Linked DNA regions of Homo sapiens: region 2 is linked to region 1. A link means that fine-mapping ties the variant in region 1 to the plasma level of a protein whose gene starts in the linked region. Region 1 holds a variant in brackets. A gene starts in the other region. All regions are shown on their forward strands.

Region 1 (8,852 bases):
CCATCCACAGTCACCACACATCAGACCCCACGACCGCCATCCACAGTCACCACATCAGACCCCACGACCGCCATCCACAGTCACCACACATCAGACCCCACGACCGCCATCCACAGTCACCACACATCAGACCCCTGTGACCGATCGCCATCCAGTCACCACACATCAGACCCCCGGGACCAACCGCCATCCACAGTCACCACACATCAGACCCCACGACCGCCATCCACAGTCACCACACATCAGACCCCTGTGACCGATCACCATCCACAGTCACCACACATCAGACCCCACAACCGCCATCCACAGTCACCACACATCAGACCCCACGACCGCCATCCACAGTCACCACATCAGACCCCACGACCGCCATCCACAGTCACCACACATCAGACCCCACGACCGCCATCCACAGTCACCACACATCAGACCCCACGACCGCCATCCACAGTCACCACACATCAGACCCCACGACCGCCATCCACAGTCACCACATCAGACCCCACGACCGCCATCCACAGTCACCACACATCAGACCCCACGACCGCCATCCACAGTCACCACATCAGACCCCACGACCGCCATCCACAGTCACCACACATCAGACCCCACGACCGCCATCCACAGTCACCACACATCAGACCCCTGTGACCGATCGCCATCCACAGTCACCACACATCAGACCCCCGGGACCAACCGCCATCCACAGTCACCACACATCAGACCCCACGACCGCCATCCACAGTCACCACATCAGACCCCACGACCGCCATCCACAGTCACCACATCAGACCCCACGACCGCCATCCACAGTCACCACACATCAGACCCCCGGGACCAACCGCCATCCACAGTCACCACACATCAGACCCCACGACCGCCATCCACAGTCACCACATCAGACCCCACGACCGCCATCCACAGTCACCACATCAGACCCCACGACCGCCATCCACAGTCACCACACATCAGACCCCTGTGACCAACCGCCATCCACAGTCACCACACATCAGACCCCCGTGACCGACTGCCATCCACAGTCACGTGGCACAAGTGGCACTCGAGCTCCCGGGCCTCTCCAGCCCAGTGCTGGAGGGATTGCAGGGATGCAGGTGCAGCCACAGCACAGGCAGGAGAAGAGTCTGAAGACGCGGGAGAGAGACCGGCACCCCCACCTCCTATTCTGCAGACTCCCCCAGGACGCTTGTCATTTACTACGGGACCTGCTAAGCCCCTGCGTCCCCAAGACAGGATGTGAGCAGGCACGTGACACACACTAACACGGACACAGGAGGCCTCGAGCTTGTGAGGCATCAAAAGACGCGCACGGTGACTCTGTGCTTCAGCATGTTCCCCAGCCCCCAGGAGCTGGCGGCAGGGCCGTGGGCTAAAACCACATCGAGTACGATTCAACCCTGAGAACCAACCTGGAAGGCAGTAACAGGAAGGTACATGGGGCCTGCACCCTTCCCAACCCAGGAGCAGGCAACACGCCCACAAATAGCCCATGGGTCTGAGGTCGGCGGAAAGCATCACAGAAATCCGTAATTATTCTGGACTCAACACAGAAAAGCCAATATATCAACACTGACGAGAGGCTGCTGAAGCAGGTCTTTAGCACAGGGTCCCCAACCATTGTGGTACCAGGGACTGGTTTCGTGGAAGACGATTTTTCCACAGGACAGCAGTGGGGAAGGGGATGGTTTTGGGAGCAAACGGTTCCACCTCAGATCATCAGGCATTAGATTCCCATAAGGAGCACAGAATCTAGACCCCTCTCACGCACAGTTCTCAGTAGGGTGTGTGCGCCTCTGAGCACCGCATGCCACTGCTGATCTGAGAGGGGCGGGGCTCAGGCGGGAACGCTGGCTCCCCACACCCCACCTAGCCTCCCGCTGTGCGCCGGGTTCCTAACAGGCCCCAGACCGGTGCCACTCCACAGCCAGGGGCCTCGGGATCCCTGCTTTAGAGGGAAAACGGCAACTTCAGATGCTTGTTTAGAAAAGAAAGTTCAAACATCCATAATCGAAACTTTTCCTTCAAGGAGCCGGAAAAACAACAATAAACAAAGCCTAAAGGAAATGGAAGGAGGCCATCGATAAACAGCAGACACCAATTACGCAGGAAACAGCCGGGAAATCAGCACACGTGAAACTCTTCTGTGAAGAGAGTCATGAAATGGAAAGACCCCTAGCGAGACCTGGAGAAGGAAAACGGAGGTTGTCAGCACCAAGGCTGCAGGCAGCTATCGCTGCAGATCTCACGGAAGCTGCAGGAAGCGAGTCTCGGCCGGGCGCGGCGGTTCACACCTGTCATCCCAGCACTTTGGGAGGCCGAGGTGGGAGGATCACCTGAGGTCAGGAGTTCGAGACCAGCCTGGCCAACATGGAGAAACCTCGTCTCTACTAAAATTACAAAAATTAGTCAGCATGGTGGTGGGCGCCTATAATTCCAGCTACTTGGGAGGCTGAGGCAAGAGAATTGCTTGAACTCAGGAAGCACAGGTTGCAGTGAGCCAAGATCACGCCAAACCACTCCAGCCTGGGCAAAAAAGAGCGAGACTCTGTTATCAAAAAAAAAAAAAAAGAAAGAAAAAAAGAAAGAAAGCAAGCCTCCAACTCGCAGGGGAATTCCAAGGACGGAGCGTAGCCAGGGCCACATCCAGGCCAATGAACACAAGGAGGCCTGGAAGCCCTGCCCACCGGCCACACACCACAGCAGGCACCACACGACCCCAGAGTGGAAGAAACAGAACAGGGAGCCCAGGGGAGGCCTCCACACCCCTGACTTACTATAAACCCGACCATAGTTCAAAGGAAGATATGGTCTCCTCAATAAAGCTGTTGGAGCACCTGCAGACCCACTACAGGAAGAAAGCTCGCCTTGAACTCTGTGTTACCCCACTCATAAAAACCAATCCCACAGATCCCCACCTATCCCACACATGAAAACCAATCCCACAGATCTCCACCTACCCCACACATGAAAACCAACTCCACAGATCCCCACCTACCCCACACATGAAAACCAATCCCACAGATCCCCACCTACCCCACACATGAAAACCAATCCCACAGATCCCCACCTACCCCACACATGAAAACCAATCCCACAGATCTCCACCTACCCTACACATGAAAACCAACTCCACAGATCCCCACCTACCCCCACACATAAAAACCAACTCCACAGATCCCCACCTACCCCACACATGAAAACCAATCCCACAGATCCCCACCTACCCCACACATGAAAACCAATCCCACAGATCCCCACCTACCCCACACATGAAAACCAATCCCACAGATCCCCACCTACCCCACGGATGAAAACCAATTCACAGATCCCCACCTACCCCACACATAAAAACCAATCCCACAGGTCCCCACCTACCCCACACATAGAAACCAATCCCACAGATCCCCACCTACCCCACGGATGAAAACCAATTCACAGATCTCCACCTACACCACACATGAAAACCAACTCCACAGATCCCCACCTATCCCACACATGAAAACCAATCCCACAGATCCCCACCTACCCCACGGATGAAAACCAATTCACAGATCCCCACCTACCCCACGCATAAAAACCAATCCCACAGATCCCCACCTACCCCACGGATGAAAACCAATTCACATATCCCCACCTACCCCACACATAAAAACCAATCCCACAGATCCCCACCTACCCCACACAAGAAAACCAATCCCACAGATCCCCACCTACCCCGCACATGAAAACCAATCCCACCTACCCCACACATAAAAACCAATCCCACAGATCCCCACCTACCCCACGGATGAAAACCAATTCACAGATCTCCACCTACACCACACATGAAAACCAATCCCACAGATCCCCACCTACCCCACACATGAAAACCAATTCCACCAATCCCCACCCAGGTTTGCAAGCTGACACAGTAAAGACTGTTCTAAAAGGAGGCGCAGAAGCAACGTCACCACAACCTCAATACCTTGAGTTCCTGCAGAGAACACAAACAGCTTTAGCCACAAACAGCTGATAAAGTGGACTGCGTTACTGGACTGTGTTAGTGGACTGCGATAGAAGTACAATCTTCCAGTCCTCAAAAGGCTTGACTTGAGAGCACAAAAGCAAGACACACACGGCACAGAGATTCACAGTGCACGCATGTGATGCCACACTTGCAGCAGAACACACAAAGAGCTCCTGCAAGCCGATGATGGCAGGCAGGCGCCCCATACAGAGCGGGGCAGGACGGACAGCCACCTCCCGCAAGAGCCCCGGGGCGGCCAGCACGGGAACACTGTGGGCACGTGGGCATCAAGAGAGCCCCCTGCACAATCCCACGAGGCGGCTTCGACACCTTCAGGCCAGCGGCCACCGGAGGCATCGCCCTCACAAGCAGCCAGCCGGGGTGTCACTGTCACCCCCCTGGAAACTCCCACAACATCCCTAAAGCACGTCTGTGACCCAGCAACCCCACCCCTGGAATTCACCCAGAGGCGAGGGCCTCTGACCCCTGGGACACTCCCAGAACCCAGCAGGCTCACAGCAGGCGCAGCCGTGCAGTCCGCACCCAGGAGCCTCCACAGCAGCGGGAAGGATACATCCACGTGGCGAGTTCCACAACGGATGCCATTCATGGACAGAACGCACAGCTGAGGCGTTCAGCATAGCTGAGGCTCGAACCCCAAAACCCACCTCCTGCCTGATCTCACTCACATGGAGACCGGGAGAGGGAGACCATGGAGGTCGAGGTCGGAACGAGGGTCACGGTGGGGGCGGTAGCTTCCGCTGCAGCGGGGATGTGGGGGGGGGTCTCCTGGGCTCTGGTGACTTTCTACACCCGGGCACAGGTGGGCGGTGGGGACGGGGGGGTCTCCTGGGCTCTAGTGACTTTCTACACCTGGGCACAGGTGGTGGCCATCAGCTTTCCATGAGGGTAAAATTCTGCTGAGATTTGCAAGTAGCTGCGATAGCTCAAGAAGTCAGAGAAAGAGGTCCTTGTGGGTTTCCACATGTGCCTCTCCCCAGACCGAAGCTCCAGGGATACTTCTTCACCTCTGCACCCCGGCCTGGCACGACTTTGAGGGCTTACCCCTCCAGCGTGCTCATGACCACTGGGTGGGAACCCAAGCCCAGGGCCCCTTTCACCCCTGCCGAGCCCCAAGGCCCCCGGCCGCTCTGGGAGGAGTGTGTCCCGGGGAGCGAGGCCTGAATCAGCCTTCCTATATCTCATGGAGCCGGCATAGGCCAGACTGGGGTCCTGGGGGTGCCAGGGGTCCAGGAAGGTACCACCAGCATCCCTACTCTCCTCTCAAACCTGGCTTACAGTCTCCAAGGCCCAGCCCTGTGACAGGACAGGGGCACCCATGCTAGAAGTGAGGACCCTGAATGTGGAGCTCCCCAAACCAGCACCCGAGAGCGTGAGGACAATGGTGCGGACCATGCCTGGAGGAGGAAGGAGTAAGGCCAAGGGGCCACACACACCCATGCCATAGACACGCATATGTCACGGACACATGCACACACACACACCACAAATAGGCACATCACAGACATGCAGCACACAGCATGAACATGCACGTGTCACAGACACACACACATGCACACCACAGGCACACACACCATGGACACACACGTGCCACACACACACACACCACAAATATGCACGCCACAGATACATGCACCACGACACACACGTGCCACACACGCATATCACAGATGTGTAAATCATGGAAGTACCTCCACCACAGAAACGCATCACAGACACGACTGCATTCTAGACACATTCATATCCCAGAGACACACATCCTGGACACGACTATCACACGTGAACCTTACGTGGCTCTTGAAGGCCTTGCGGACGTGCCCATGGGCGGCCTTCTGGACCACGGCATACCGACGCACGCAGTACGTGTTCTGGGGTTTGATGATGCTGGCGATGACCTCCGTGAGCCTGTCCTGGGGGATGGTGTCGTACGCGCCCGTCACATCCACCTGTGTGAGTGGAGGCGAGGAGACTGACAGTGGCCACGCAGAAACTCAGACATCACCTCTGCCCTCAGGGCCTGGCCTGGCGGTGTCCCCCACTCTCTCTCTGACCCCCACCACTCCAGACCCCAAGGGCAGGGCGGGCTGTGTCCCCTCTCTGAGCCTCAGGACAGGAGACCCCTGGCTCAGGACTGGGGTGCAAGGCACCGGGGCCTGGTGGCTGAGCCGTTGCGGTTCCTTCTCTGACGGAAACTGGAATCCAGTGGGACCCTCCTTGGGAATAGGAGCCCGGGCAGTCAGGGTGCACAGTCGGCCCCATGTGCTGCAGGAAAGGCTGAAGGCCTCCACCCTAGGTGCCAGGTGTGTCCTCAACAGTGACAGGGTCACCTGCACTCCCTGCGGCCCACCCAGGAGTACCTCCTCCACCCAACATGAGGTGCCAATCAGGCAGCCACTCCCAAGGTCCAGCAGGGCTGCTCACGGGGGTCCCCGGCACCCACCTTGACAAAGTACAGCTCAGGCGGCGGGTCCTGGGCCCGCACACGCAGCACGAAGGTGCGCCAGGCCCTGTGGATATCGTCCAGGCCCAGCACAGAGGCGCCCAGGAGGCCGGGGCGCCGCGCCCGCTCGTAGTTGAGCACGCTGAACAGTGCCTTCACCCTCGAGGTGAGACGCTCGGCCTGGCGGGGACAGCATGGGAGACAGTCAGGAAAGTGGATCCGGCCAAGTGCCCACCCCACCATAGGGACCCAGGGGAGAAGCAGCCCCTCCCCAGTGTCCCCAGCCACCCAGACCCGGGACCTAGAACCCCTCCCAGCTTCCTCAGACCCTGTTTGAAACGGGTTCCTGGCCGCATGTGTGTTGCACACGGGATCCTCATGCCA[C/T]ACCTCTGTCCACCTCACCCCACACTCTCCTCAGATGACGGGGTCACCGCAGCCACCGCAGCCACAGGGGTGGGGTGCAGGAGCCGTGGGGCAAGGTCCAGGATCCTCAGAGCCCGGTGGGCTCCTGGCAGTCGTGGCCTGGTCCCCGGGCCCCGTAAGCGGAAGCGCACGGAGGCTGCGCACCACAGCAGGACACGGATCCAGGACCTCGGGCCGTGCTGCATCCAGGCCCTGGCCCGGCTGCTTCTTGTGGTCCTCAGAGCCTGTCCCTGCCCCAGGAGCTCCCCCTACACCCCCACGCTGCTTTTCTGGAGGCACCGGCACCTCGGCCACCTCACTGTGCGCACAAATGGGTTGGCGCCGTGCCATGGCCCTGGCTGTGTCCCGTGGCCCCTCCTCCGGGCCCTTCATCTAAGCTGATACCAAATGTGGGGCTCAAACGCACTTCTGTTTAAAAAGGAAGTTAAACCAAAGCACAGCCACCCTCTTTTCTCTGCGGAACGTTCTGGCTCCCACGACGTAGTCCATGTTCACAATCGGCCGCAGCCCGTCAGGCTTGGGGATGAAGCGGAGTCTGGACGTCAGCAGGGCGGGCCTGGCTTCCCGATGCTGCCTGACCTCTGCTTCCGACAGCTCCCGCAGCTGCACCCTCTTCAAGTGCTGTCTGCAATAGAGAGCCCCTCAGGAGGCTTGCTCAGCCAGACAACAGACTAGGGGGAAGCTCACGGGAAGCCACAAGCCCCCACCGACTCAGTGAGGGCTCAGGGCACCCACGGCAGCACACGCTGAAGGCCATGCCCGGGGCCACGTCCACCCATGCCAGCCAGACGCCTCTGAGAGCCCCTCTACTTGCAGGGCACCTGGACACCTGGTCCTATAGTCAACCCTGGGGACGCCCAGTCCGGCGGTCAACCCCCAGGGTGACTGTCCCACCATCAGCACCAGGGAGCCTGGTCCCAGGCTGCATCTGGGGCCACGTGAACCCATGCCCCTCCACACAGGATGCCTGTCCCTCTGGTACAGCCACTGGGGTAGCCCAAGGCTGGCCCCAGGCAGGACCCCCAGGTAGAAAGAGCCACATCCCTTCAGATGGAGAGGGCGGGAGAGGCTGCTCAGGGCAGCTCAGCCAAGGAGCAGAATCAGCTCTCATGAGCCCACCAGTCTCCTGACACCTCTGCCCTTTGGCCTTTTCCCCCAAAACCACCCATGGGGGCACGGGGGCTGGAGCGGCCACACCTGGACCTGGGCATCTGTGGCTGACAGCCTGGCACTCCGTGGACACTGGGGCCGCGGGTGCTCCGGAGCTGGTGCCCTGACCGCAGGCCGCAGGCCCAGCAGAGTAGAAAAGGCACGGTACCCTGTCCAGGGAGGAGGGGCCTCCAAGGCCCCCCAGGCAGAACAACAGTCCCAGTAGTGACAAGGAGCATCTTGGGGACCACCACGTCTGTCTGCTCCTTCCGGTCACCCCAATTAAATTCTTTCCAAAATACTGGTCAAATGACCATGTTGGGTCGCACACCATTAAATACGTGTAAAGTCTAAGTAAGGTGCATTGTGTATTAACTTGTTCCCACAGGGAAAGCCCTGACCCTCCCCCAGATGCAAGGAAATGGCCCCAGCACCACGTCGGGGTCCCCAGCCCAGAGGCTGTGTTACCTCTGACGAGGTCTGCTGCCAGCTCCCTCTGCAGACATCCTGATTTGGGGCATGGGGTGTCACAAGGCCCCCCAGGGACTCGAGTGTGCAGGGGAGCTGGGGAAGCCCTGATCTTCTGACTAAAGCCCTCCACAGTCAGCCTGGGCGGGACACGGAGAAGCTAATACCATGGCCTGGGCTCAGCCAGGCTGGCATCTCCCAGACCAGCGCTCCCGTCCCTCACTGATGCAAATCCAGCTTGAATCTGTCACAATCTCACACTCTCATCAGCCGAACATTGCAGACAAAATCTCACAGCCATTCAAATGCAGCCACCTAGAAGTTAGC
Region 2 (15,319 bases), not on the chromosome of region 1:
GCAGTTCTGCTTTCCTCAGGATGCTCCACAAGTCTGATCCACTGTCCCCGCCTTCACTAACACCCAGCCTCCTTCTCTTCTTTATCTCCCAACCCTAGATGCTCAAGGTTGTTGGACACGTCCAGGCATGTTCTCAGAGGCAATGCAGGTCCAGTAAGAGCCTACAGGAAATGGCTCGCCAAGATCCTAGAGATGTCAGCCCAGATCCCTGATACCTCAGAAAGCGCTCTCCGGACACAAATGGATGGACTGACAGCCAGCCACAGGGCGCCTTCCCAATTGTTCTGATTTTGCGGTACCCTAGCAGGATCATCCTGACCTGATTCTGTACTTCTGCACCTAGATGCCGCAGGTCCCAGCCGCCTTGCCACACCAGGGGGTGTTCCCACACTCACCCGGTAACGGACGAGTAGATGGCTCTTGCTCCCAAATGGGACTCCGGTACAAATCCACCTCAGCGCAGAGCACACATCTCACCCAGCCCCCTCCCGTCACCCCCCGCCCTTCACCCCGCGCCCCTCAGCCCCCGCCCCTCAGACCCGCCCATCAGCCCCGCCCCTCAGCCCCCGCCCCTCAGCCCCCAGCCTGCATACACACTCACAGTATATGAAATTCCTTGTAATCAAAGTTCCGCTTGACTCATTTCACATCCACGTGTAGCAACAACAGCCCAAACCCTCCTTTCACGGTAAGCTTACCTCTTCCGCCCCCGTGAAGTTCCTAGAGCAGCTATTGGACTGTTTGAGTGCCTAGGCGTGGCTACGAAAAGAAACTGCCTTTGAGAGGAACAATGTGAGGCTGAAGAACAGTGACCCAGCCACTGGTATGGCAGGAGCTGCAAATCTCCTGGGACTGAAGCGGGGGCCAGAGAGTAGAGGGCCAGGGAGTGGGGTCCAGAGAAAGCATCAAGTTGTCTCTTTCACAGCTGAATGCAGCTCAGCTCATCAAAGTTTATTCATGACTTAGCAGGCTTGGAGTTTGACAGGGAAAATTATTGTTGGAAAAGCCAAAATTTTCAGACACATGGAGAAGCCGCTTTCCAGCTCTGCATCTGCCTCAAAAAAATACTCCTCCATTCAGAAGGGTAGATAGGATTGTGACAGGAGGAAGAGAGCAGACATGAAGCAGGGAAAAGACCACTAAAAATAAAGGAAAATTGGATTCGGCACTCAGCTTTGATCATCCATCTTCTCTGGGCCCCTGAGTGTCTGTACAAGGAGGGGGTTGAGCTACGTAGTCTCTAAGGGCACTTCAAACAATGACACTTTGGGAGTTTATTAATCCATGATCTCAGAGGCAGCGGTGGATAAATCCCGAAACGTTACTAGTCCCTGACCTTGAAGAGTTTGCAGAGCTGGGAAGATAAAGTAGACCGGACAGAGACAGAGAATTAAGGGCCAAACTATGAGGTGCAGACTGGAAGGGTTTGGGGGCCAGTAGGAAGAAGGAGTAAAAAAGAGTCTGACAAGGAAAGCAAATGCTTTTCAATAGATTAGGAGCTTTTAAAAGAGGTCAAAGAGGAAATAGCCTAATGGGTAGAGGAAAAGAAAAGCTTGAGCCAAGGTATGGGGGAGAGGACCAAGAAATGAGCCATTATCAGTCTCTGAGGGACCCCTCCTGTACTGGGCAGAGGCTATATGCCAGCTCAGGGTGGAGTCTCAGTAAAGCAGCTGAAAAGCCTTTGGTGGGAAAGGGCTGAATAGGCCCTAAGCTGAAGTAGAAAAAGTCCTAAATGAACTTCATATCTGTCCCCTAGCTAGAGTTAAGACCAGAATAGGCTACTGTGGGCTCAGGCCTAGTAGAAGGGAAAACTGCCAGAATTGGAATCCTAGGTCTGCCCCTTACTAGCTTTGTGACCTAAGGCAAGTTACTTAACCACTCTGTGGCTCAGGATTCTCTTCTGTAAAGTGGGGAAAATAACAATCCCTTACTCATAGGATTGTTTTAGGTATTATATGAGTTAATATACAAAATAGTGTTCATATGCGTAAGGAGCTTAGAATGATTTCTGGGACGTAGTGGTATAGAAGTGTTTATTAAATATAAATAAATACATGAATGCAATTTAGGGACCTCTGAAATCATCTGTGAGATTCAAATGAAAATAGCTACCCTGGGTACCTCCTAATTCTGTTCTGTCCTTTCCTAGAAAACAGGACCTCTTCTTTTTCTCCATCCTTTCCTACCCAGAGAAGCTGAATTACAGACAGTTTTGAAACTTTAGTGTAAAGAACCCTAGCTTGGAATTTAGATGTCTTGACAAAACTAAGTGTAACATCATGTAAATCTCTTCCTCTCTCTTAGTTTTCCTTTCTGCATCTGTATCCTGAAGAGACTGTTGGACTGGATGACCTTGAAACGCTAGAGCCGTGCTTCTCTCATATTAATGTGCACACAAATCACCTAAGGATCTTGTTAAAACACAGATTCTGAGTTAGCAGCTGTGGTGTGGGACTAAGACTCTGATTTTCTAACTGCTTCCAGGTGATATTGATGGTGCTGGGCCACAGACCATAGTTTTAGTAGCAAAGGTTTAGAAGGTGGACAAGAATAACATTTACTGAGCACCTATAAATCATGCATATGTGTCCCTTTATACCTTACAACCATTCTATGAGGTTGAGGTTACCATCCTCATTTTGTAGATGAAGAGGCTCCTTGTACTCTGTGATTCTGCCTGGAAGTACAGGAGGAAACTTGAGATAGAGGTACCAGGGATATGTCAGAGTCCACAAGCTATTGTGGAAAGTGATTATAAGCAGCAAATATGAAACCACTGTCCTCCACCATAACTTGTCCAATAATACTATAACAGTTAGCTGGCCCTCACTAAGCACTTGCCAGGCACTGCTCAAATTTTTTTCATGAATTAATTCATTTTATCTTCATAATCTATGAAGCCACAATCATTAGAATTATCCTCCCCTCTCCTTTTGCTCACACCTCACATTCAACCCATCAGCACATCCTATCAGCTCTGCCTCCTGCCTCAGAGATAAACTCTGAATTTCACCAACTTCTTAGCACCTTCACTGCAACCACTCTGGTGCAAGCCACGATTACTTTTCACCTGAATTATTGCCATATCCTCCAATAGCTCTCCTTGCTCTCATGCTTACCCCACTCCAGTCAATTCTCAGCAGAGCAACCAGAATGATCCTTTTAAAAGTACATCAGTCTAAGTCTGTCCAAGCAATTCTACTGGTTGGCTTCTTATTCAGCAGAAAACCCAAAATCCTTAACTATGGTCTATAATAGTCTACAATCTATCCCACGCCATCCCATCCTCACTAACCTGCCCCTCTATCTCTGATCTCACCTCTTACCACTCGCCTTGACCACCATACCCAACCCCAACTGGCGGCCTTGATATTTTTTCCAACACTCAAAGCATGCTCAAGACTCTGGTCTTTGCACTTGCTGCTCCTTCAGCCTAGCCAATTCTTCCCCCAGATATCAGCATGGCTCCTTTTCTCACTTCCTCCATATCCCTGCTTAAATGTCACTTTATCAAAGTGGACTTTCTTGAATACCCTAGCTAGTACAAGCTAATGGGATTGCCTAGGCCTTTTGAAATCCACTGGGTAGGTGAGCTTTTTCTCAACATAGCCCCAGGACCCCCGGTGCAGTGTGGTGGTGAGTAGGGTTAAGGCTCTCAACTCTGCTCTCTGTGGGGGAGCCACTCTAGCTCCATGTGCTTGTGCAGCAGAACTAAGTTTGGATCAGCTAATTTCTTGGGGGCTTTCCACAGCCCCTCCTTTTATGATAAACAGGAGTCACTTTGTGAACCCAAACTGAGAACTATCAGTACAGAGTTTCTCTACCTACATTCTACTGCTGGAACCAGCCTAACCTGACAGCAGGATAGGCAGGACCAGCCTCCACTCTGCTTATCTCTGGGACCAGACAGATTCTGGGGCTCAGTGAGATTCAGGGCTCTCTGATGCCACCCCTCAGCTCTCTCTCAGAGGTTACTTAGGGTCACTCAGGGGAATACTGGCCTTGGCTGTGTCTCAGAGAATCCTGGGTAGCCTCTAATTCTAGTGTCCAACAATGGCAGGACCACCTTTCATGAAGGAGCTTCATGGTTATCCAGGCAGAATGGGGCCCTTATAGCTCCTCTCAAGACTGGGACCAGGGGGCAGGAAAAGAAGCTGAAAGACTAAGGGGATGCTGAGGCCTGTGGGGCAACCCCTGTAAACTCAAACATTGCTAAGGATGTCCCTGAACACAATATCAGCTTCTTGTTCTCTTTAGCCTGTGAGATGTGTGTAGATAAACTTGGCCATAAATGTTTGCTGCAGTGGTGTATACAGGCTTAGGTCTTCTGAATTAGAAAGCTGGGGTATAAGAGTTACTTCTAGCCATGGGAATTTTCAAACTTCAGCTAGATTCTAGCACAGTCCAATAGTGTTATCTCTCATTTTAAATAATCTTCTATTCCACTTGCCCAAGATGGCTTTTAAAACTCACTCTTCTTAAGTCAAGTGCTCAACACAGCTCCCAAACCCCTAGCAGATGACTTCACCTCCAGTTTCACCGAGAATGTAAAAGGGCACGAAACTTGAAGTCTAAACAACTTCTGACATCTCCACATTCAAGTTCATCCTGTTTCTTACCTCAGAGTTTCCTCCTGTCCCTCCTGTCTCCATCTGTGTTTACTCCTGTCTATTCCATTTTGCTTTATTTGTATCTTCATGGTCTTTCTTCCTCTGGCTCTTTCTCCTAAATTGTCTTTCCATTCTGAACTAAGATTAATTCTTTTCATATCCTCACCTCCACCTCTTCATTTCCAAACTCACTACATTTTGCTCTTCTCAAGGTCACCCATGATTTTCATACTATCAAACCCATGGATTCTTCTGTTTTCTTATTTGAATTATCTAAAACATCCAACATTGTCTGGATTCTTTTCTTTCTGACTCTCTTCCCTTGACTTTCATGGAACTAATGTCTTCTAGTTTCACTTATTTCTCTACAGCATTTTATGGATTCTCATTCTCCACTTGCCCCTCAAGTGCAGGGATTTTACAGAGTTCCTCCCACCCTCCATTGTCCCTCTGGCCTGATTCTAACTTCTCTCACTGGAGTGTGAACCTATGTGGCAGGGACCTTATATACCATTTCACAAATTTCCACATGCAAAACTGTACCTAGAGTATTTTAAGCGCTCAATACATTTTTACATATTATATATATCAATATATCTGTTGAATAAGCCCAAGGAGAAAAATGTTCACATTTGAATGTATCCTTCTATAATGAGCTCCCAGGCCTCAGGTGTGCCACAATAAAAATAAGATGGCTAAAAAGGAATTGAAACCCACACCCAAAATAATAATAATAGCCAACACTTGATCAATGCTTGATGAACTCTATATGTCAGGCCCTATGCCAAATGTTCTGTATGCAATAGCTCATTTAATCATCACAATAATCCTATGAGGCAAAAACCATGACATCACTCCTATTTTATAGATGACAAAATTGAGGCACAGAAACGATAGGTGACTTATCTATGCCATCTATCAGTGCCACAACCAATAAGTGGCAATTGACCCAGGATTCTCAAGAATAGCTGATGCCTTAATTATTCACTGTCACACTCAAATGTACAATCCTTGCTTTCCCTTCCAATCAGAGGCTCCTTCCATCCTCTCTGAAGAGCTATTCTAAACCTCTACCTTTAGAAGTAAAGGTTAAGTTCCTACTTTAGCACTGAATTCTTAGCCCAGAAACATTGACTCTTTTCTTCTTCATCAATAAAACAGATTCTATTAGGCATTTAGTGCCTATAACTTCTTCCCTAATTCCTATAAGGTTCTCTCTGTCTTCATTCATCTTGGCCTTTCCTCTTGAAGAAGAGGAGAGAATGCCTCCCCTGATATTTATGAATCTTTCTCCATCAATTACCCCCACTCTCTATGGCATCATTATTTACCTGTCTTCTGTGCCTACCCCTTTAACTCGTAAACATATTTGAATTCCTCCCACTACAAAATAAAATCAACCCTTCTACCACATTTCCTCTTTCTCAAACAACAGCCTCGTCTCATTTTTTTTCTTAGCCAAATTTCTGGATAGAGTTTTCTCTAATAACTGTTTCCATGACTTTAATTTCCATTAGCTCCCCAACCTACTATAATCTGGCTTCTAGCCCCATTTGTTCTCCCTAAAGCTACAGGGGACCACTTAACTGCCAAATTTTAGGAAACATTTTCTCTCATCTTTTTTTTTCTTTTTTTTATTATACTTTAAGTTTCAGGGTACATGTGCACAACATGCAGGTTTGTTACATATGTATACATGTGCCATGTTGGTGTGCTGCACCCATTAACTCATCATTTACATTAGGTGTATCTCCTAATGCTATCCCTCCCTCCTTCCCCCACCCCACAACAGGCCCCGGGTGTGATGTTCCCCTTCCCGTGTCCAAGTGTTCTCATTGTTCAATTCCCACCTATGAGTGAGAACACGTGGTGTTTGGTTTTTTGTCCTTGCGATAGTTTGCTAAGAATGATGGTTTCCAGCTTCATCCATGTCCCTACAAAGGACATGAACTCATCATTTTTTATGGCTGCATAGTATTCCATGGTGTATATGTGCCACATTTTCTTAATCCAGTCTATCATTGTTGGACATTTGGGTTGGTTCCAAGCCTTTGCTACTGTGAATAGTGCTGCAATAAACATACGTGTGCATGTGTCTTTATAGCAGCATGATTTATGCACCTTTGGGTATACATGCAGTAATGGGATGGCTGGGTCAAATGGTATTTCTGGTACTAGATCCCGGAGGAATAGCCACACTGACTTTCACAATGGTTGAACTACTTTACAGTCCCACCAACAGTGTAAAAGTGTCCCCATTTCTCCACATCCTCTCCAGCACCTGTTGTTTCCTAACTTTTTAGTGATCGCCCTTCTAACTGGTGTGAGATGGTATCTCATTGTGGTTTTGATTTGCATTTCTCTGATGGCCAGTGATGATGAGCATTTTTTCATGCCTCTGTTGGCTGCATAAATGTCTTCTTTTCAGAAATGTCTATTCATATCCTTCGCCCATTGTTGATGGGGTTGTCTGATTTTTCTTGTAAATTTGTTTGAGTTCATTGTAGATTCTGGATATTAGGCCTTTGTCAGATGAGTAGATTGCAAAAATTTTCTCCCATTCTGTAGGTTGCCTGTTCACTCTGATGGAAGTTGCTTTTGCTGTGCAGAAGCTCTTTAGTTTAATTATATCCCATTTGTCAAATTTGGCTTTTGTTGCCATTGCTTTTGGTGTTTTAGACATGAAGTCCTTGTCCATGCCTATGTCCTGAATGGTATTGCCTAGGTTTTCTTCTAGGGTTTTTATGGTTTTAGGTTTAACATTTAAGTCTTTAATCCGTCTTGAATTAATTTTTGTATAAGGTGTAAGGAAGAGGTCCAGTTTCAGCTTTCCACATATGGCTAGCCAGTTTTCCCAGCACCATTTATTAAACAGGGAATCCTTTCCCCATTTCTTGTTTTTATCAGGTTTGTCAAAGATCAGATAATTATAGATGTGTCGTATTATTTCTGAGGGCTCTGTTCTATTCCATTGGTCTATATCTCTGTTTTGGTACCAGTACCATGCTGTTTTGGTTACTGTAGCCTTGTAGTACAGTTTGAAGTCAGGTAGCATGATGCCTGCAGCTTTCTTCTTTGGCTTAGGATTGACTTGGCAATGTGGGCTCTTTTTTGGTTCCATATGAACTTTAAAGTAGTTTTTTCCAATTCTGTGAAGAAAGTCATTGGTAGCTTGATGGGGATGGCATTGAATCTATGAATTACCTTGGGCAGTATGGCCATTTTCATGATATTGATTCTTTCTATCCATGAGCATGGAATGTTCTTCCATGTGTTTGTATCCTCTTTTATTTCGTTGAGCAGTGGTTTGTAGTTCTCCTTGAAGAGGTCCTTCACATCCCTTGTAAGTTGGATTCCTAGGTATTTTATTCTCTTTGAAGCAATTGTGAATGGGAGTTCACTCATGATTTGGCTCTCTGTTTGTCTGTTATTGGTGTATAAGAATGCTTGTGATTTTTGCACATTGATTTTGTATCCTGAGACTTTGCTGAAGTTGCTTATCAGCTTAAGGAGATTTTGGGCTGAGACAATGGGGTTTTCTAGATATACAATCATGTCATCTGCAAACAGGGACAATTTGACTTCCTCTTTTCCTAATTGAATACCCTTTATTTCCTTCTCCTGCCTAATTGCCCTGGCCAGAACTTCCAACACTATGTTGAATAGGAGTGGTGAGAGAGGGTATCCCTGTCTTGTGCTGATTTTCAAAGGGAATGCTTCCAGTTTTTGCCTATTCAGTATGATATTGGCTGTGGGTTTGTCATAAATAGCTCTTATTATTTTGAGATACATCCCATCAATACCTAATTTATTGAGAGTTTTTAGCATGAAGGGGTGTTGAATTTTGTCAAAGGCCTTTTCTGCATCTATTGAGATAATCATGTGGCTTTTGTCGTTGGTTCTATTTATATGCTGGATTATGTTTATTGATTTGCATATGTTGAACCAGCCTTGCATCCCAGGGATGAAGCCCACTTGACCATGGTGGATAAGCTTTTTGATGTGTTGTTGGATTTGGTTTGCCAGTATTTTATTGAGGATTTTTGCATCAATGTTCATCAAGGAAATTGGTCTAAAATTCTCTTTTTTGGTTTTGTCTCTGACAGGCTTTGGTATCAGGATGATGCTGGCCTCATAAAGTGAGTTAGGGAGGATTCCCTCTTTTTCTATTCATTGGAATAGTTTCAGAAGGAATGGTACCAGCTCCTCTTTGTACCTCTGGTAGAATTCGGCTGTAAATCCATCTGGTCCTGGACTTTTTTTGGTTGGTAAGCTATCAATTATTGCCTCAATTAAGAACCTGTTATTGGTCTATTCAGAGATTCAACTTCTTCCTTGTTTAGTGTTGGGAGGGTGTATGTGTTGAGGAATTTATGCATTTCTTCTAGATTTTATAGTTTATTTGCGTACAGGTATTTATAGTATGCTCTGATGGTAGTTTGTATTTCTGTGGGATCGGTGGTGATCTCCCTTTTATCACTTTTTATTACATCTGTTTGATTCTTCTCGTTTCTTCTTTTTTAGTCCTGCTAGCAGTCTATTAATTTTGTTGATCTTTTCAAAAAACCAGCTCCTGGATTCATTGGTTTCTTTGAAGCTTTTTTTGTGTCTCTATCTCCTTCAGTTCTGCTCTGATCTTAGTTATTTCTTGCCTTCTGCTAGCTTTTGAATGTGTTTCCTCTTGCTTCTCTAGTTCTTTTAATTGTGATGTTAGGGTGTCAATTTTAGATCTTTTCTGCTTTCTCTTGTGGGCATTTAGTGGTATAAATTTCCCTCTACAAACTGCTTTAAATGTGTCCCAGAGATTCTGGTACGTTGTGTCTTTGTTCTCGTTGGTTTCAAAGAACATCTTTATTTCTGCCTTCATTTCGTTATGTACCCAGTAGTCATTCAGGAGCAGGTTGTTCAGTTTCCATGTAGTTGAGCGCCTTTGAGTGTGTTTCTTAATCCTGAGTTCTAGTTTGATTGCACTGTGGTCTGAGAGACAGTTGGTTATAATTTCTGTTCTTTTACATTTGCTGAGGAGTGCTTTACTTCCAACTATGCCGTCAATTTTGGAATAAGTGCGGTGTGGTGCTGAGAAGAATGTATATTCTGTTGATTTGGGTTGCAGAATTCTGTAGATGTCTATGAGGTCCACTTGGTGCAGAGCTGAGTTCAATTCCTGGATATCCTTGTTAACTTTCTGTCTCGTTGGTCTGTCTTTTGTTTAAATTTGGGTGTTAAAGTCTCCCATTATTATTGTGTAGGAGTCTAAGTCTCTTTGTAGGTCTCTAAGGGCTTGCTTTATGAATCTGGGTGCTCCTGTATTGGATGCATATATATTTAAGATAGTTAGCTCTTCTTGTTGAATTTATCCCTTTACCATTGTGTAATGGCCTTCTTTGTCTCTTCTGATCTTTGTTGGTTTAAAGTCTGTTTTATCAGAGACTAGGAATACAACCCCTGCCTTTTTTTTGTTTTCCATTTGCTTGGTAGATCTTCCTCCATCCCTTTATTTTATGCCTATGTGTGTCTCTGCACGTGAGATGGGTTTCCTGAATACAGCACACTGAGGGGTCTTGACTCTTTATCCAATTTGCCAGTCTGTGTCTTTTAATTGGAGGATTTAGCCCATTTGTATTTAAGGTTTATATTGTTATGTGTGAATTTGATCCTGTCATTATGATGTTAGCTGGTTATTTTGCTCGTTAGTTGATGCAGTTTCTTCCTTGCCTCAATGGTCTTTACAATTTGGCGTGTTTTTGCAGTGGCTGGTACCAGTTGTTCCTTTCCATGTTTAGTGCTTCCTTCAGGAGCTCTTTTAGGGCAGGCCTGGTGGTGACAAAATCTCTTAGCATTTGGTTGTCTGTAAAGGATTTTATTTCTCCTTCACTTATGAAGCATAGTTTGGCTGGATATGAAATTCTGGATTGAAAATTTTTTTCTTTAAGAATGTTGAATATTGGCCCCCACTCTCTTCTGGCTTATAGAGTTTCTGCTGAGAGATCAGCTGTTAGCCTGATGGGCTTCCCCTTGTGGGTAACCCAACCTTTCTCTCTGGCTGCCCTTAAAATTTTTTCCTTCATTTCAACTGTGGTGAATCTGACAATTATGTGTCTTGGAGTTGCTCTTCTCGAGGAGTATCTTTGTGGCATTCTCTGTATTTCCTGAATTTGAATGTTGGCCTGCCTTGCTAGATTGGGGAAGTTCTCCTGGATAATATCCTGCAGAGTGTTTTCCAACTTGGTTCCATTCTCCCCATCACTTTCAGGTACACCAATCAGATGTAGATTTGGTCTTTTCACATAGTCCCATATTTCTTGGAGGCTTTGTTCATTTCCTTTTTCTCTAAACTTCTCTTCTCACTTTATTTCATTCATTTGATCTTCCATCACTGATACCCTTTCTTCCAGTTTATCGAATTGGCTACTGAGGCTTGTGCATTCATCATGTAGTTCTTGTGCCATTGTTTTAAGCTCCATCAGGTCCTTTAAGGACTTCTCTGCATTGGTTATTGTAGTTAGCCATTTGCCTAATCTTTTTTCAAGGTTTTTAACTTCTTTGCGATGGGGTTGACCTTCCTCCTTTAGCTCGGAGAAGTTTCATCCTCTGAAGCCTTCTTCTCTCAACTTGTCAAAGTCATTCTCCATCCAGCTTTGTTCCGTTGCTGGTGAGGAGCTGCTTTCCTTTGTAGGAGGAGAGGGGCTCTGATTTTTAGAATTTTCAGCTTTTCTGCTCTGTTTTTTCCCCATCTTTGTGGTTTTATCTACCTTTGGTCTTTGATGATGGTAACGCACAGATGGGGTTTTGGTGTGGATGTCCTTTCTGTTTGTTAGTTTTCCTTCTAACAAACAGTCAGGACCCTCAGCTGCAAGTCTGTGGAGTTTGCCAGAGGTCCACTCCAGACCCTGTTTTCCTGGGAATCAGCAGCAGAGGCTGCGGAACAGCAGATATTGGTGAACAGCAAATGTTGCTGCCTGATCGTTCCTCTGGAAGTTTTGTCTCAGAGTGGTACCTGTCCGTGTGGGGTGTCAGTCTGCCCCTACTGGGGGGTGCCTCCCAGTTAGGCTAATTGGGGGTCAGGGACCCACTTCAGGAGGCAGTCTGTCCATTCTCAGATCTCAAGCTGCGTTCTGGGAGAACAACTAGTGTCTTCGAATCTCAGTTGGAAATGCAGAAATCATCCATCTTCTTTGTCGCTCATGCCGGGAGCTGTAGACTGGAGCTGTTCCTATTCGGCCATGTTGGAACTGCCCGACTTGCTTTTTTCACTCGTCTTCTTACTTGATTTATCCACAGCTTTTTCCAGTAGTGGTCACTCTTTTCTTGGAAAACACTATTTCTAATGTTGAAAAAAGAATCCTGTCCCCTAGCTTCCTTCTATTTTTCTTTTTCTTTTCATTTATTTATTTTTTTATTTTTAAAATTAATATTTTTCCATAAGTTATTGGGGTACAGGTGGTATTTGGTTACATGAGTACTTTCCTTATCATTACTTCCCCTTATTGTCTGCTCTCACCTTACTCAAATCACTTCAAATGTAGTTCTGACTCAGACAAGTAGCCAAACCCTCTATGCCTACTCTATACCTTAGCAGGCCTATGCTCAGAAGCTCAGCACACACTGACCAGAAGGCTCTGCAATAATGACTATTCTACACATGTATTTGTTAATAATATTACTTTAAAGTAATGTGGGATATAACCCTTTAAAGTCCTGTATACATGTACCTCATTCAATCTTTATAATCACAGGAAAGTGGAATTACTCTTATTGTAGCAATTTACTAATTGGAAAGGGCAGAATTGCTGTCTGTTGGATGTGCACTATATACAGGCACTATACTAGGTAATTTATGTAAGTTATTTCACTAACCCTTCCAGAGCAGCTCCATAATTAGCTCCATTTTTAAAAGTGAAACAAGTAAACATATAAAACATTAAGTGGGAGTGACAGCAGCAACATTGTTGGATAGAACTTTTCAGCACTCATCCTCTTGTAGAAACATCAGTTTGAAAAACAATCCATAGCCTGAGCAACAAAGCGAGACCCCAATCTCTACAAAAAAAAAAAAAAGTAATTAGCCTATTGTCATGGTATGAGCCTGTGGTATCAGCTACTTGAAAGGCTGAGGTGGGAGGATTGCTTGAGCCCAGGAGTTTAAAGCTGCAGTGAGCTATAGATGATGCCACTGCATTCCAACCTGGGTGATCAGAGCAAAACTCTCTTAAAAACCAAAACAAACAAGCAACACAAACAATGACAATTACAAAAAATAAAACTATCCATGAACAAAAATATGTTCACAAGAGTAAAGGAATCCAGGCGAGAGATTATAGCACCTGGACATAGCACAGAAATAAGAAAAGACACATCAAAGAGGGAAGGAAAGAAAGTTTTATGTTATCCATATTATCCCTCCCCCATGTCTCGGCAAAAACCATGACATTGCTCCTATTTTATACATGAGAAAATTGAGGCACATAAATGATAGGTAAATTATCCATACTAATATATCTGGCCTAGTTACCAGGCTCACCACAGCTATAGGCCAGTCCCTATATATTGAGGTTCCAGGCCCCTCCCATACTCTGGAGAAGCCCCAGCACCAGGCTAGTCCCCACAGCATTAGACTCCATGCTGGCATCCACAGACCCAGCCTCCAGGCCTGCTAGAGTGTCAGAACAAAACTGACAGACCCCACCTCCAGTTTGGCTTACATGGCACTAGGCATGAGGCCAGCATGCACACACCAAGGCTCTATGCTAGTATTCATGGCCCCACACTCCAGTGGACCCCGAGACCAGACCTGCTTCAGTAGGCCCCAGCACCAGGCCAGCCTATGGCCTTAGGCTGCAGAATTACCCCCCACAGCCCCAGGATCCAGGCTTAGCCCACAGACTCATCCTTCAGGCCCAGACACATACTAGGCTTGCTCCCACAGATCCAGCATCCAGGCCAACCCCTATAGACCTAGCTTCCAGGCCACCAACTGCAGACTTAGAATCTAGTATGCCACCTGCAGACCCAGGATAGAGGCCTGCTACAGTGAACCCAGGCTCCAGGCCCTTTGCTGTGGATAAATGATAACAGGAAAACAATACTTCAAAAAAATGAAACATTTGACAAAGAGATAGAAAGCATAAAAGGGAACCAAATAGAAATTCTGGAGCACAATGACTGAACTAAAAATTTCTAGAGAAAGCTGGAAATAACAGGCTCAATAACACAGAAAAATAAAGCAGTGACCACAAGACAGATTATTTGAAATTGCCCACTCAAAAGCAACAGTAACAAAAATAAAAGAAAAAGGTGATGAAAGCATGTGGGACTTATGGGATACCATCAAGGAAACCAGTATGCAGTTAGCACTCCATATATGCAAGTTCAGCATCCAGATTATCAACTAACCACAGATCAAAAATATGTTTTAAAACCCAATAACAATAAAATAATACAAATTTTAAAATACAGTATAACAGGTATTTACATAGAATTTACATAATATTACATATTATGCTTACATCTAGAGATGATTTAAAGTATACATGAATAGATATGTGAAGGTTATATGCAAATAGTACACAATTTTATGTAAGATGTATATTCTAAGTCTCATGGTAACTACATAAAAAGCGAATATTAGATACACAGATGATAAAGAGAAAACAAAACATACTGGTAAAAGTCATCAAATCACAAAGACAGACAGCAAGAGAGGAACAGATGAACAAAAGAATTACAAAAGAGACAGAAAACACAATGGCAGTGGTAAGTTCTTAGTATCAAAAATTACTTAAAATGAAAATAGATTCAATTTTCCAATAAAAAGGAATAAAGTGACTAAATAGAAAAACAAGATCCAACTTATGTTTTCTACAAGAGTCACAGTTCAGCTTGAAGGATGCAGATAGGCTGAAAGTGACAGTATGGAAAAACATACTTCATACAATGGGTAATCACAAAGAGCAGGGATATGTCTACTAATATCAAACAAAATAGAGATTTTAAGTCCAAACTGTGACAAAAGACAAAAAAGCATTATATAATGATAAAGGGGACAATTCATCAAGAAGGCATAGCAATTAATTGTAAATACATATGCAACCAGCATGACAGCAACTAAATATATAAAGCAAATATTAACAGAGCTGAAGGAAGACTATTTTGCATTTCTGCAAAAATGCAAATGCAAAAATAGTAGCAAATGCAAAATACAGTAGAGAACTTCAAAACCACATGTTCAACAATGGATAGATCATCTGGACAGAAAATCAATAAGAAAACAGTGGATTTGAACAACTGGCTCAACACACATGTACAGAACATTCCATCCAACAGCAGCAGAATACACATTCTATTCAGCACACACAGAACACTCTCCAGAATAGACCATATGTCCAGCCACAAACAATTCTTAATAAAACATTTAAGAAGATTAAATCACATCAAGTATTTTTTTTTCTGAACACAATGGAATAAGACTAAATAAACATCAACAAGATGAAAATGAGAAAATTCACTAATAAGTTGAAATTAAACCACTAACTTCTGAACAATTAGTGGGTCCAAAAAAGGAAAATAAAAGTCTTAAGAAAAATGAAAATGGAAACAAAACATAACAAAACATTTATGCAGCAGAAAAGTAATTTTAAGAAGGGCATTTATAGCAATGTAAGCCAACAATAGGGAATAAGAAAGATCTCAAATAATCAACCTAACCTGAG

Direction of the effects. Alleles are on the strand shown, and positions count from the first base shown. The strength of an association depends on the size of the effect and on how common the allele is.
With allele T in place of C in region 1, the plasma level of the protein whose gene starts at base 479 in region 2 is lower (weak association).

The links. PIP is the chance, under the fine-mapping model, that this variant and not a neighbour inherited with it causes the effect. The UK Biobank Pharma Proteomics Project read protein levels with antibody pairs (Olink). The fine-mapping took linkage between variants from a reference panel, not from the people measured, so its PIPs are less certain.
Region 2: EDA2R starts here. The variant in region 1 is fine-mapped to the plasma level of the EDA2R protein (UK Biobank, PIP above 0.99).

The regions. Positions count from the first base shown.
Region 1 is chr5:1,272,806-1,281,657 of GRCh38, forward strand. It overlaps TERT (telomerase reverse transcriptase), which reads right to left. Exons shown (of 16, transcript NM_198253.3): 4 at 7,353-7,533; 5 at 6,486-6,665; 6 at 5,836-5,991. Among named protein-coding and RNA genes, the nearest start is that of TERT, 18 kb to the right of the region's middle. RefSeq lists a silencer at 3,889-4,183. The variant C/T (reference allele first, on the strand shown) is at 6,870.
Region 2 is chrX:66,638,600-66,653,918 of GRCh38, forward strand. EDA2R (ectodysplasin A2 receptor) reads right to left here and starts at 479. Exons shown (of 7, transcript NM_021783.5): 1 at 396-479. RefSeq lists an enhancer at 1-299.